Linked DNA regions of Homo sapiens. The protein of the gene in region 2 purifies or fractionates together with the protein of the main gene of each other region. This does not show direct contact. Each region holds a gene or a part of one and is shown on either strand. Other genes may lie near its edges.

Region 1 (7,023 bases), on a different chromosome or scaffold from region 2:
TTGATATACTACATTATACGTCAAAAATAAATAAATAAAATTAAGAAGACAGGGATTCCAAGATTGTAGCTGACCAAGCTGTCTTGTTTTGCGTACATCAACACTATGCTGCTTCCAATATTCCTAGCCATTCCACAGGTAATGATTTTTCAACAATCAAGAGAAAGTCATTCTTGTACTGTAACATCTTCCTCTTCCCCATCGGGGTTGAATCTATTGAAATGTATACTGAAATCAGCCTCAGATTCAGCATTCTCAAATTCAGCTGCGGCTGAAACAGCAGCAGGATGAAGAGCCCTAGCTTCTGGTTGGCCAAGTGTTGGTGTCTGACCCGGGCTGTGGTGGTTATTCACAGGGCTGGACTTCTGTTTCGGTGGAGATGGCAACATAGCACTGGGAAATCCCATGTTGTTCAGAGCCTCCAAAGTTCCATCAGGATCAATCATAGCATTGATTGCTAAAGGGCGGGAAAAGGAAATAATTTTAGATGCAGTTACATTCACATATAAACACTGTTCATGATTTGGATAATATTTAAACTATCAGTGCGTATGTGATCTTAAATGTGGCTAATCTTCCAATATTATATTTAAAACTCCATTCTTAGTTATTCTGTAGCTGTACTGTAAATCACCCAGCCCTGAATACTTTCTCTGGGTCCTTTGATGTGGCACTTACGGGCATTTCAGAGACTTGTAAGTCTGGTATTTGAAGATGTGGAATTCAAGAAAAATCTTGTTGAAATTTGTCTTCATTATTGTGAGAGGACCGAGAAAATACTGAATATGATTTTTAATAAACATCTAAACCCACATCACTCAGATAACTGAGGTATTAGCTGCTAAGTCAGGGTTCAGAGTAACCTCAAGGCTGGAGAGGCCAGAAGAACATCAGCATACTTTGAATGCTACCATAGAATACGGTCATTTAGCCTGGCCAGAGTGCTAGGGTTATCAGCTGTATACACCACTGAGATACAGGGGTTCCCTCAGAGCCTACAGACTAATATCACAGGGCAGCTTGCAAAGCCAAACAGACTTGCTGCCTATATGGAAGGGGTCAGTTAAAGGTCAGCTTTCAGTCCAAAAGATCTTTGGGTTGACATGGAAAGTTCTCAGGCGGTGATTTTCAATTTGGCATTGGGCAGAGTAGGGAGTTGGGAGAAGGAAGTAACATAGATGTAAGAATCATGTAGAAGGGACTTTTAAAAGTATACCCCCAGTCTACCAGCTAACAAGCACTGTGTTAGCAAGCCACTTTTACTCATGGGGTGTACCATAACCCTTAGGTGTGTTGGGGCTAAATAAAGATGAAAAATCATTTTGATAGGATCCACATAAGTACCTATGATTATTCGATAGATAAAGACTCAGTAGAATTAGCAGTTGACTATGGAACCTGCCTGTTGTACCACTGGGGACTTCTGGGTCAAGACATACATAGGCATTAATGCACAGCCCAGCTCTGACAAGTTTAGAGGGCAGCCTCTTTCACTTTCTTCTCTCCTTTCTCTTCTGGTCTCTATGGCCAATATGTACTCATTTCTTGTCAACCAAACAACTATTATTTCTATTAGAATGTAAGTTTGTTTCAGGTTACACCACCAACATAATTTAAGAACTGTCAAATCACACAAATAATGCTAATTAACACAACTTTATTATATATTTTTCACATATTATTTATATGTAATACATAAAAAATTTCAATTAGTTTATGACATCTAGCCTACTGTCAAACCTATGAACTAAAATATGCCCAACATATATCTTTATTACATTTTAAATTTTTATACTGGGTTTAAAAAAATTCCTTTTTATGAATAATGTGAATGTTTGAACTCTGTATTTTATGTATGTCATTACATTTAATCAAATAACATCCTAACAATATTTTAAGAAATACCACTCAGAAGGCACTTATTCTAAATTATTAGCTCTTTATACTTAATTCAGTAGTAAATTTACCTTGCAGCTGCTTTTCTACTCTTTTCAGTTCCTGTAAGATAGAAGAAATCTCCTGCAGGGAAAGCAATAACAAAAATTAGCCTACTTTTAGCTAAATGTTATCACTTTACAAGCAATGAATTTCACTCTCACTTTATTTGGAACACTTAATATTATCTACATGGTACTTACTACATTAATAGCAACATGATATGAAATAATTATGATATCTAGCAAACAAGATTCAAATTAAAATATTTAAACTAAAATGAAATACAATAACTTTTTCAGTGAGATGATTGTAGCAGATGAAAAGTTTAACATTTACTACTATTTAAGCAAAGATTTTTTTTTTTTGAGACCGAGTCTCACTCTGTCGCCCAGACTGGAGTGCAATGGCGCAATCTTGGCTCACTGTAACCTCCTCCTCCCAGGTTCAAGTAATTCTCTTGCCTCAGCCCCCAAAGGAGTTGGGATGATAGGCGCCCGCCACAATGCCTGGCTAATTTTTGTATTTTTAGTAAAGACAGAGTTTCGCCATATTGGCCAGGCTGGTCTTCAACTCCTGACCTCAAGTGATCCGCCCTCCTTGGCCTCACAAAGTGCTGGGATTATAGGCGTGAGCCACAGTACCCGGCCGCAAAGATTTTTAAAATTCTTATTAATCAACCTTGCAATAACTATGTAAAAATGCCTTCAAATTATCTTTGTAAAAACATATAAACTGCAACCTCAATATTATAATTATATTCTGAGCAATGAAAATCTGTACAAATTCTTTTAAAAAGAAGATAAGCATTATATTAAGTAAACGGAAACGACTTATGTCAACTTAATATTTTCATGTTAGATTTGGTTCTCTTTAAAAATTTCATGTTTCTAATGTTTAATTATTACAAGAACAATCTATACTAGTAAGAAACACAAAAGGCTCCTCCTTCATACCCTCTGCAACTTTGAAACAATCAACATTTTAAACCTGTGAGTCAGTAGAAGAAATAAAATTTCCCAAAATTTTGCATTTATATCTTCTTTTGAAAAAGCAAATCAACGAACAGCTCAAAAATAAGGGTCTTTTCCTTAAAATAAAACTCTATTAAAATGTTTTAATCTTCAAGAAAAATTACTATACCATGCTTGAGGTTTTCACAATAGGGACTTCACTTTCGGCTCTTAATTTGCTTTCTATGTCATCCCAATTCCGATCTTTGTCTTTAAATAATATTCTATAAATCAAAAAACATAAGCATATAACTTTTTATATTTTAAAAACCTATTACTTTTTTGTTAATAATACCAAAGCAATGTATCTTTTCAAAGGTACACAAAGAAAAAAAACCAACCACCGCATAAACTGAGAATTAAAATACTAAGCCAACAGTACCAATTAATTCATGTGTATGAGCTCCAATTGAATGCTTATTAATACATGCATAAATTCTTTACTGTTTATCTTATTCTTTATTGAAAACAAAATATAAAACAAATGTAAATGATGTTATGACCTCAAAACTTTAATATTTATAATTTACAATACAGTAATGCCCTCTTATCCACAGTTTCTCTTTCCATGGTTTTAGTTAGTGGCAGTCAAGCATGGTCCGTAACTATTACAGTATTTTGGGAGAGGGAGAGAGAGAGAGAGAAAAAAAAAGACCACATTCACATAACTTTTTTTTACAGTATATTGTTACAAATGTTCTATTTTATTATTAGTTACTATTGTTAATCTCTTACTGTGCCTAATTTATAAATTAAACTTTATCATAGGCATGTATGTGTAGGAAAATACACAGTATATTAGGTTTTAGAATTATCTGTGGTGTCAGGCATCCAGTGGGTATCTTGGAACAACATGTATCACCTGGGTATAAGGAGAAAAGACTGTGTAACTGTCACTTATAAAGAAAATGCAATTTTATTCAGACAGAATATATGCAGTATAGGAATAAGTGAGATGAAAATAGGTTGAATTAGGTATAAACAATTGTGTCTGTTAAGACCTCTTTATATGGGAATAAGCACCTTATCGATCAAGAAAAGTGTGTATATTATTTTGAAGACAAAAAATTGGGAGTACTTACTGTGCTTTTCTTTAACAATTGTTAATTCGTGTTAGTATACTTGCACATAATAACCTATTAGGAATTAGGATGCTACCCTTTTGATAAAAACAATTGCCAATAAAGATAATTATCCTATCATTACCCTAACATCAAATAACTTATAAAATAAAGGACCACAAAATTTTGACGTGTCTTTCAAATGTGGGACACTTTTCTAACACTTTAGAGTCTATCAGACATGATTCAGCAGTCTTAGATGTAAATACTAGCTACTTTTTTGGTTTCTTTTAAATTTTTTTCAGTAAGCCTGGAAATCTAGTTTAAACAACACTATATAACCTCATGTAAATGTATTACTACTGCAAGCTGATCAGCATTTAAGTAGTAAACTAAGTTAATATTTGTGCTGGTATTTCTTCAAAGATCAACATGCCAGACTTACCTTATTTAAAAACATGAAACTCATTAACATCACATCAAGTCTGGAACATTTGCTTAAGGTGGCAACGGGTCTAGAATCTGGTATAAGAATATTCTTATGGCCTACTTATTAAATTTTCTAAACTCAAAAAAATGAACACCCTTGCCAGCCATCTTTTCTAAATTATTATGTTCTTGTAAAAGAGTCCTTGCAGCATTAGGACTGATGGAAAATAAGGAAATAATGACTATTTCATGGACCAGCTTAGAACTGTAATGGACTTATACAATAGAGAAAGACTCTGTTTAGCCACACAGTGCTAAAAATTCAGTGAATTTTTCCAGAGGATGGCTACTGAGTATAGTGTTTGTGGATCTAAAACTGTTAAACCATAGACATTTCACCTTTGGTGAAAATGGGTTTTTCACGGGTTGCCCCTGAAAAAAAAATGCCCCCCTGAAGAAATAAATGGTTTATTTTAAAATACAGTTTGTTGGCCAGGCACAATAGCTCATGCCTGTAATCCTAGCACTTTAGGAAGCCAAGGTGGGTGGATCACTTGATGCCAGGAGATCGAGACCAGCCTGGGCAACATGGCGAGACCTCGTCTCTATAAAAAATACAAAAAAATTAGCAGGTGTGGTGCAGATGCCTGTAGTCCTAGCTACTAAGAAGGCTGAGGTGGGAGGATTGCTTGTGCCCAGGGAGGTCGAGGCTGCACTGAGTGAGTGAGTTGTGAACATGCCACTGCACTCCAGCCCATCTCAAAAACAAAAAACAAAAAACAAAAAAACAAAAAAACAAAAAACAATTTGTAATATATAATAGAACAGATCTAAGAAGTCAAACTTGTCATTTTGGCATTATGAAATAAACTTTACTATAATATTTACTATAATATTTAATATTTAAATACTAGAGAATCAGAAAACCAGACCAAGAAATTAGTTTAGACCAGGCTATAATGACCAGAACTTGTTTTTGTTTGAAGGTCCTTATCAATTTTAAGCTGAAAAAATCATAGCTTTCAAAGTGATATTCAGATTATATTATAGATTCAAAATAAGCTAAACTTCAGCATGAAAATACATAAAATTCCAAAGCTTATTTCATTCAATAATTTAAGAATTAAGTTAAAATACTTTTGATAAAGCCATTGGTTTTAGGGAAACAAACAGAAGTCTCAGGCTCCTATTCTATGAGCCATAACCAATTCCCTAGTACTAGCCCTTAAAACATGCGAACGCGGAGTTGCGAATTGAGAGTCTACCAATGCAAGGCCATGCTACACAACCTAAGGGGGTCATTTTCACATGGAATGCAATGAGAATGCTGTACAACAGGAGTTCCTGTATAAATATTTAAAAATGGATTCCACAGACAGTGTTCATACAATGTAAGTACGCATGCCTCTAGGATGAACCCCAGTAGACATTTGAGGTTATAACTCCTGACACAAAGCTTAAAGACCAGTTGATTCTCAAACTACCCTGGCACTTTCCACGCAGAAGGCCCAGGTCTCTACCCCTTAGGTTTGGTTATCACAACTCAGACCTACCTTTGAATAGTATCTTCTTCCCAAAGCCTTCCCTAAACCTCCTAGGTGAAAGTGATCCTTCCTTTGCCTTTATATCTCTAACTGAGCACTAATCTATTATACGCTATCTTGTACGACAGTTGATTGCATATGTGCCTCACCTTGCCAACTACACTGGAAACTCTTTAATAATAGAAATGGTTTTATCCTCATTACCTTCCATAAAGCCTGCCATAGTGCTTTATGCATAGTAAAACTCAACACTCGAACTGAAGGCAATTCAAATACATTAAACATTCTGTATTTATGTATAACTTTATTGAGGCATTTTTATGCATCCTTTTTTAAACTTTATAAATTCTGTCACTTTCTGAGACAACACAGGTTATCAATCCATCAGCAATGTCTTCTTTGTTCTCAATTTTAGTTCAATGTCAAAGCTACAAAAAATATTTTTCTTTGGGGGAGACTACAGAACGTAGGAAAGCTGCTCCGTGGTAAGGAAGAGAATGGTACACAGCAGGTAATCTGTGAACATCTGCTGAATAAATGAATGAGTGGTTAAGACTCCAGTTAGCAGGGACGGACCTGTATTTCAGTAGGTAGGATGAAAAAACACTGTGTACTTGTTTACAGGTAAGGAGACTCCAGGGTTTTCCAGGTGCAAGCCACATGACCATACAAGACTCTCATGATATTTTTACAGATAGCACTGGTGTATCAAGAGGACCCATATTGGATATATTAGCTTCCTATGGTTTTTAATAATAAAATCCAAACTCCTTAACAAATTCTGCCAAAACAGATCCATCCTCATCTCTCTAGTGTCATCTCTCACCATACTCTGGCCCTTTCACTTCACATAGCTTTTGAGTAACTCCTCTCCTCATCATTCAGGACTTAAATTGCATGGCAATTTCTCTAAGAGCCCTTCTCTGAATTTCCCAAGTGCCCTTGCTATGGGCTTCCATAGTAACCATCCTATATTTCCCTTAACACACTGAACTATAATTAACTGTTTACCTGCCTTCTACACTCAAATGTGAGGACATC
Region 2 (7,023 bases):
GGCAGGGCCTAGGGCTGTCTTGGCCACCACTGTGTCCCCAGCATCACTCCATGGGGCCCTGGCAGGGACTCATCCCTCTGGTGGACAGGCAGGGGCTGCCAGGACCTGGGGTGGCCACTCCGCTTCTTGTCATTTGTGTGCTGCTGCTGCTGCCGGTGGTCAATCTCCAGCAAGTGCTGCTTCATGCAGTTGGTGATCTCCGGGCCCAGGTGCCAGATGAACACGCAGCTGCGGAGGTCAAAGAGAGACACACAAGGCAGAGGAAGAGTAAGCATGGGAGCCGCTGCCGTGGCTGACCCTGAAGCCACCCACACCACAGCCTGGACCCCATTCTCCAGATGCTCCTGGAAAACACACCCCTATCCGCTTAGTGCAGGGGTGCTGGACTTGCCACATCCACACCCTGGGCCCAGGTCTGGGGCATCCCAGCAAACCAGGGCCTGTTCTGGAGGCCTCAAGACCTGAGGAAGGGGGCTGTGGGGAAGAACTGGGGTAAATCAAAGGGAGTGACAAAAGGGACTTCCTTGAGTACCACCCATGTGCTAAAGAATGTATGTATATCATCTCATTCATTTCTCACCATACAATTTTCTTTTTTTTTTTTTTTTGAGAGAGTCTTGCTCTGTCACCCAGGCTAGGGTGCAGTGACGCGATCTCAGCTCACTGCAACTTCTACCTCCCAGGTTCAGGTCATTCTCATGCCTCAGCCTCCCAAGTAGCTGGGACTACAGGCGCCTGCCACCACGCACAGCTAATTTTTGTATTTTTAGTAGAGACACAGTTTCTCCATGTTGACCAGGCTGGTCTTGAACTCCTGACCTCAGATGATCCATCCACCTAGGCCTCCCAAAGTGCTGGGATCACAGGCGTGAGCCACTGCGCCCGGCCTCATCACACCATTTTTAAGGTAAATGTAAACGGTGGTGTCTTTTACAGGGGAGCAAACTGAGGCTCAGGGGAAATAACCTGCTCAAGGTGACAAGAAAATAAATGGCAGAGCTGGGATATGTTTTTTTAGTGTTTTGTTTTTTTTTTGAGACGGGGTCTTGCTCTGTCACCAAGGCTGGAATGCACTGGCATGATCTGTGCTCCCTGCAACCTCTACCTACCAGGTTCAAGCCATCTTCCCCCTCCTGAGTAGCTGGGACTAGAGGTGTACATGACCACACCCGGCTAATTTTTTGTAGAGATAGGGTTTTGCTATGTTGCCCAGGCTGGTCTCGAACTCCTGAGCTCAAGTGATCCACCCGCCTCAGCGTCCCAAAGTGCTGGGGTTACAGGCGTGAGCCATCATGCCCAGCTTAGAGCTGGTATTTGAACTCAGGGCTGGGTGTGACACCAAGACTCCCACAATCCAAACTGGGCAGTTTAGAAATGCTCTCTACACAGGCAGGCTGAGTGCAGTGCTCATGGTATCTGAGCCACAACTCTCCCAAAGGTCCATGTCCCACCTGTCTCCAGATACTGTGATCAAGTGATGACAGTCATAGGTGAACTTCATGCTGGTAATAATTTCTGCAAACAAAGCAGAGAGGCTGCACTTGCCTTCGGAGTCAGAGGGTGTGGGCGGGTGGGGAGGCATCCCAAGCAGAGAGGCACACCCACCTGAATGGCCAAACATCTTGGCAATGCACTCGCCCGAGTAAAAGTCAATCACTGAGATGCTTTTGTCAGAGCAGCTGGTGGCCAGGAAGGTGCCTGAGGGGTCCACATGGACCTGCCAGGAAAGGGACCCACATGTCACTCCAGCTGCCTGCTTCTTCCTTATGATGAGGCCTGGGCCCCTCCCTCCCCCGTGCTGCATGCACAGCACATGGGACTCTGGCAGGGCAGGAGCTCCCGCTCCCATTCGACACGTGAAGAAATTAACAACCACCGCAGCAGTAACAACAGTAGCCAGGCCCTGTGCTAAGCACTGAACATGTGCAAACTGAACTCCTCCAGAGAACAAGTCTATGAGACAAGCTGTCTGTGTGCATTTCAAGAGATGATGCTTGCCCAAGGTCACACAGTCAGCCTGAGGCAGAACCTGAACCCATAACTGTCCTAGACCAGAGGCTCTGAGAAGGTCCCCCCTTGTCCTGAGTGACCCGTGGCTGGTGTGGGCAAACCAGGAGGGGAGTTCATGCCTCTGATTCTTCCCACCATACCCTGCTGCCACTCAAAATGGAACCCACTTAGACGCCCCACTTGGGGAAGGGCTCTGTAAATAAAGGAAACACAGCTGGGGTCACCCTCCCCACCCTCTCGCAAGCATCCTTGTTTAACCAGGCCTGAGAAGGTGCTGGGCAGCGCGGTGCACTGAGGAAGGACCAAGGGCACAGGTCTCAGGTGTGGGCCGTCACAATAGGTGGCCCATCAGGGCAGCAGACAGACAGGGGTCTCCAACTCCTCACCTTCAGCAAGGACCCTTCGTCACCCTGGGAGCCCTTGTAGCACTTCTTCTGCTTCCCGTTCACAGTGTTGTAGACTCTGGGGAAGTAGGGGCATGTTGCGGCCAACAGGGCCCCGCCTACCCCACCACCTCATTCTCTGGCTCTTGCTGTCCTCCCCTCCCCTGGAAGCCCCCTGCTACCTCTTGTCCCCATCTGATGCCTAGACTGAAACTGAAACCCCATCTCAAGCTGAGGTTGTCCTGGGGTATCCACTGAGTTAATGTTCATCTCCCCCACACACTGCAAGCTCAGTGCTTGGCACCGCATGAGAAAGAACTGGGAAGGGGTGCAGAGCCTCTTTGCACTGCTTTGCCCTCTGCACACTCACTCTCTGCCTCCCCCTGGCTCGCTCCTCCACATCCTCCCCAGGCTAAGGTGTCTCTTCCTCCAGGAAGTCCTGCTTGATCCGCAGGTGGGGTCAGGTGTCTCCACAGGGCCCCTGGGCTCCCCCATCTCTGACCACTCTGTCACTGTCTGTGGCTGTGAGGTGGCCGTGTCCATTCTACTGGACTGTGAGCTCCATGAAGGAGGGCCTGGGGCTATCCTGGCCACTGCCATGATCCCAGCACCATCCAGCCCAGTTAGGTGCTCAGGGAATACGGGTGAATGAGGGAGTTTATGTGCCACATCAGCACCTTAGTCATCCCACACCGGCTCTAGGGAGAGCCAGAAGAAAGCCCTCTGCTGACCTGGAGGCCAGGCTTGGGAGAGCCCAGCTTCTAAGAAATACCTGCTGGTGGCCGGGCACGGTGGCTCACGCCTGTAATCCCAGCACTTTGGGAGGCTGAGGTGGGCAATATCACCTGAGGTCAGGAGTTCGAGACCAGCCTGGCCAACATGGCGAAACCTCGTCTCTACTAAAAATACAAAAAATTAGCTAGGCATGGTGGCAGGCGCCTGTAATTCCAGCTACTTGGGAGGCTGAGGCAGGAGAATCACTTGAACCCAGGAGGTGGAGGTTGCAGTGAGCTAAAATGGTGCCACTGCACTCTAGCATGGGCAACAGAGCAAGACTCTGCCTCAAAAACAAAAACAAAAAAAAACCAAGAAGGAACACCTGCTGGGTCCCTCAATTCCTTCCCAGCTTCTTGGGGACCAGAGGAACAGAGGGAGGAAAGCAGACAGCCTAGGACAAGGCAGACCAGGCCAGCTAAGGGTCCAGGGCCACCCCTTACCTCACATTGCGGTCCTGGCAGGCCACGGCCACGTACTTCTGGGTGATGTCAATGTCCATGTCATACAAGGTGGTTTTCTCTGCTACGTGGTGGGTACGGACAAAGTGTAGTCCATCCGAACCCTGGCAGGGCCGGCAGGACCTTCAGAGAATGCCCCGACAACCCCCCACCCCAGCCCCCAAGGAGGCCATGCCACCCTACCTGCTGGGCACTGCGAAAGTAGATGCTCTTGTCAGCCCCACAGCTGATCATCTGGATGTCTCTGTTGCCTAGGGGAGGAGGACGCTGTGTGTTAGGCAGGGCTGGGCCACATGGGCAGGGGACCCTAGCTGGGGAACTCCACTGCAAGAGCCATCAATCAACTGTGCTGGGATCAAGGCTTCCTAAAGGTGGTGAGGTGGGTGCTGGGTCTGGGTGGGACTCTGTAAGGTATGAGCTGTACGTGTGAGGGGGCACAGGTGGAGCTGTGGCCAAGGCAGGCTCTGCAGAGCAAGGGCATATAGAGAAACAAAGGCTGGGGACAAAGAAGGGACACCCTCTCCAGTCTGGGATTGAGATAGGTGACTTGAGTAGCGGAGTAGAGGCAGGACTGCAGCAGCGACCAGTGGAGACAGGCTGGGAGGCTCGTGCCATCAGGATCAACTGCAAGATCCACATGAGCCTTGGGCCAGGCCCCATGCATGTAGCGGGTCTTCCTGAATGCTCACCACCCATCCCACTGGACAAGCATGAACACAGAGGTTCACAGAGTCCTTGTCCCAAGGCACACAGAGAGGACAGGGGCAGGACTGAACCCAGGCATTCTCTGGTGCCAAGGTCAAAGCTGTTAAACACTGCTCTGAACCTGGGCCTCCCCTTTGAGCCTCAACTTCCGGTCCGTACAATGGGCATGGTGACAGTTCCTTCTCTGGAGAGTGATGTGAAGCCCTTGGAACAGGGACTGCCACATGGTAAGCATTAGAAACATTCTTGCTTTTATTATTCTCATTTCTTTTTTTTTGAGACAGAGTTTCGCTCTTGTTGCCCAGGCTGGAGTGCAATGGCGTGAGATGCCCCCGGCCGTCTCATTTCTTTACAGAATAACAGTTTGGTGAGGATGAAATGACAGAACAAATATAAAACTCTGAGTCTGGGCACATCACACATGCTCCTTCATGACAGGACATTTGAGAGGGTCCAGGCCTGACATACAAGTATTAGATGTTGCTCAAGGAGGAGTCATTGGCTCACAGAAGGGAGTGAGCCCCATATAAGGGAGGAAGGGTAACCTGGGAGGGACCCAGAGAAGGCCTGCAAGCCTCTGGTAATGTTCTGCTTCTTAACCTGCACGTGGTGAATCCAAGTACCGTATTTAACAATATTACGACCATGAGCAATTAGAACAGTCTCTGCTATCAACAACGTCCTAGTTCAAACCTTGCTCCTAAGAACTGTGGATACTCACTTCGGCCACCACGCCCAGCTTATTTTTTATTTTTATTTTTTTTGAGATGGAGTTTTGCTCTTGTTACCCAGACTGGAGTGCAGTGAAACAATTTTGGCTCACTGCAACCTTGGCCTCCTGGATTCAAGCTATTCTCCTGCCTCAGCCTCCCAAGTAGCTGGGATTACAGGTGTGCACCACCATGCCCGGTTACTTTTTTTGAATTTTTAGTAGAGACGGGGTTTCACTATGTTGGCCAGGCTGGTCTTAAACTCCTAGCTTCAGGTGATCTGCCTGCCTCAGCCTCCCAAAGTGCTGGGATGACAAGCATGAGCCACCACGCCCGGCCTATATTCTTCTTTTTTTTTTTTTTGAGACAAAGTCTCGCATTGTCACCCAAGCTGGAGTGGAGTCACTGGCGCAATCTTGGCTCACTGCAACCTCCGCCTCCCGGGTTCACACAATTCTCCTGCCTCAGCCTCCCGAGTAGCTGGGATTACAGGTGCACACCACCATGCCTGGCTAATTTTTTTGTATTTTTAGTAGAGATGGGGTTTCACTATGTTGGCCAGACTGGTCTCGAACTCCTGACCTCATGATCTACCTGCCTTGGCCTCCCAAAGTGCTGAGATTACAGGTGTGAGCCATGGTACCTGGCCATTATTCTTTTTTTTTTGAGACAGGGTCTCACTCTGTTGCCTAGGCTGGAGTGCAGCCTCCACCTCCCAGGTTCAAGCAATTCTCCCACCTCGGCCTCCTGAGTAGCTGGGATTACAGAAACAACACCCCGCCCAGCAAATTTTTGTATTTTTAGTAGAGACGGGGTTTCACCATGTTGTCTAGGAAGGTCCCGAACTCCTGACCTCAGGTGATCCACCCTCCTTGGCCTCCCAAAGTGTTGGGATTACAGGTGTGAGCCATTACACCCGGCCCCAGTCATTATTCTGTATACTGTACACAGATACTGTATTCACTTGTTTGGATATATATTTTACAGGAGAGTTGAAAGAATGAATCCTTTTTTAGCAGGGTAGCTAGCAAGGCGCAGGGAGCGGGAAGAAAGGGGCTCACCAGCGAACTTGATGGCGGTGATGGAGGAGGAGTGGTCATCCAGCGTCTGCTCCAGGTTGTAGTTCTTCTCCACGTTCAGCACATGGATCAGCCGGTCCCGACTGGCTGAGGCCAGCAAGGTCAGCCCTGTGAGAGGAGAGAATGAGACTGGTTCCTGAAGGCTGCGTGGGTGCCCTGGCCTCCCAGAAGGGCAGTGTGACCAAGCTGCCCAGTCCTCGGAGAAGGGGTCTTTGGTTCTTCAACTGTAGCCAACTTGGCCCAAGCCTGGCAAGGGCCACTCCCTTAGCTCTGTGTGGTCTTTCCCAGAGCCCCCACACCCTGGCATTTCACCTCCTCACCACCAGCTCAGGGAGGATGAGTCTCGATGGGCGCATGGACGCTCCTCCAGGGACATCCACAGCAGACGCCCCAGCAGAGCCCAGCGCTCTTGCCTGCTGGGTCTGTGCTGGGTAAAGCCCTGGCAACCTCTCAGCCTCTTCCAAAACCAGTGTCCTCTCACCCTCTGAGGTCTGGCTACCTGGGCCTTGTTCAGGTCCTATTGACTGCCTGTGGCCAGACTCCCATCTGCCACCAGCCTTCCCTACTCTGGTCACTTGCTATGTCTGAGGCCTAATAACATGACCTGAGGCAGAGGGGAGATCAGGAGAGGCGAACCGAGTGAAGATATGTTTCAAGACAAGTTGGTGGGGCACACAGCATGGGGGATGAGAGAACGAAAGAAGAACATGGGGAAAATCACATCAGGATATAACTCCACCAACTCTGTAACTCCCAAAGTGCTGGGATTACAGGCATGAGCCACCGTGCCCAGCCTAGAAAACATCTTGAGGAGCCGGGCATGGTGGTTCACGCTTGTAATCCCAGCATTTTGGGAGGCCAAGGCGGGTGGATCACCTGACGTCAGGAGTTTGAGACCAGC

Evidence for each region. Proteins that work in one complex are often made in the same cells at the same time.
Region 1: the proteins of WDR62 (region 2) and CEP170 purify together in Homo sapiens (affinity purification with mass spectrometry; 3 studies listed by BioGRID and IntAct, with this or other methods). This does not show direct contact.

The regions. Positions count from the first base shown.
Region 1 is NC_000001.11:243,126,282-243,133,304, forward strand, and holds part of CEP170 (centrosomal protein of 170 kDa), read right to left. Parts: intron 3,173-7,023; coding exon 3,079-3,172; intron 2,020-3,078; coding exon 1,968-2,019; intron 458-1,967; coding exon 168-457; 3' UTR 1-167.
Region 2 is NC_000019.10:36,085,894-36,092,916, reverse strand, and holds part of WDR62 (WD repeat-containing protein 62), read right to left. Parts: intron 6,231-7,023; coding exon 6,105-6,230; intron 3,880-6,104; coding exon 3,812-3,879; intron 3,733-3,811; coding exon 3,611-3,732; intron 2,473-3,610; coding exon 2,397-2,472; intron 1,718-2,396; coding exon 1,606-1,717; intron 1,516-1,605; coding exon 1,452-1,515; intron 229-1,451; coding exon 106-228; intron 1-105. UniProt on the Homo sapiens protein: Required for cerebral cortical development. Plays a role in neuronal proliferation and migration.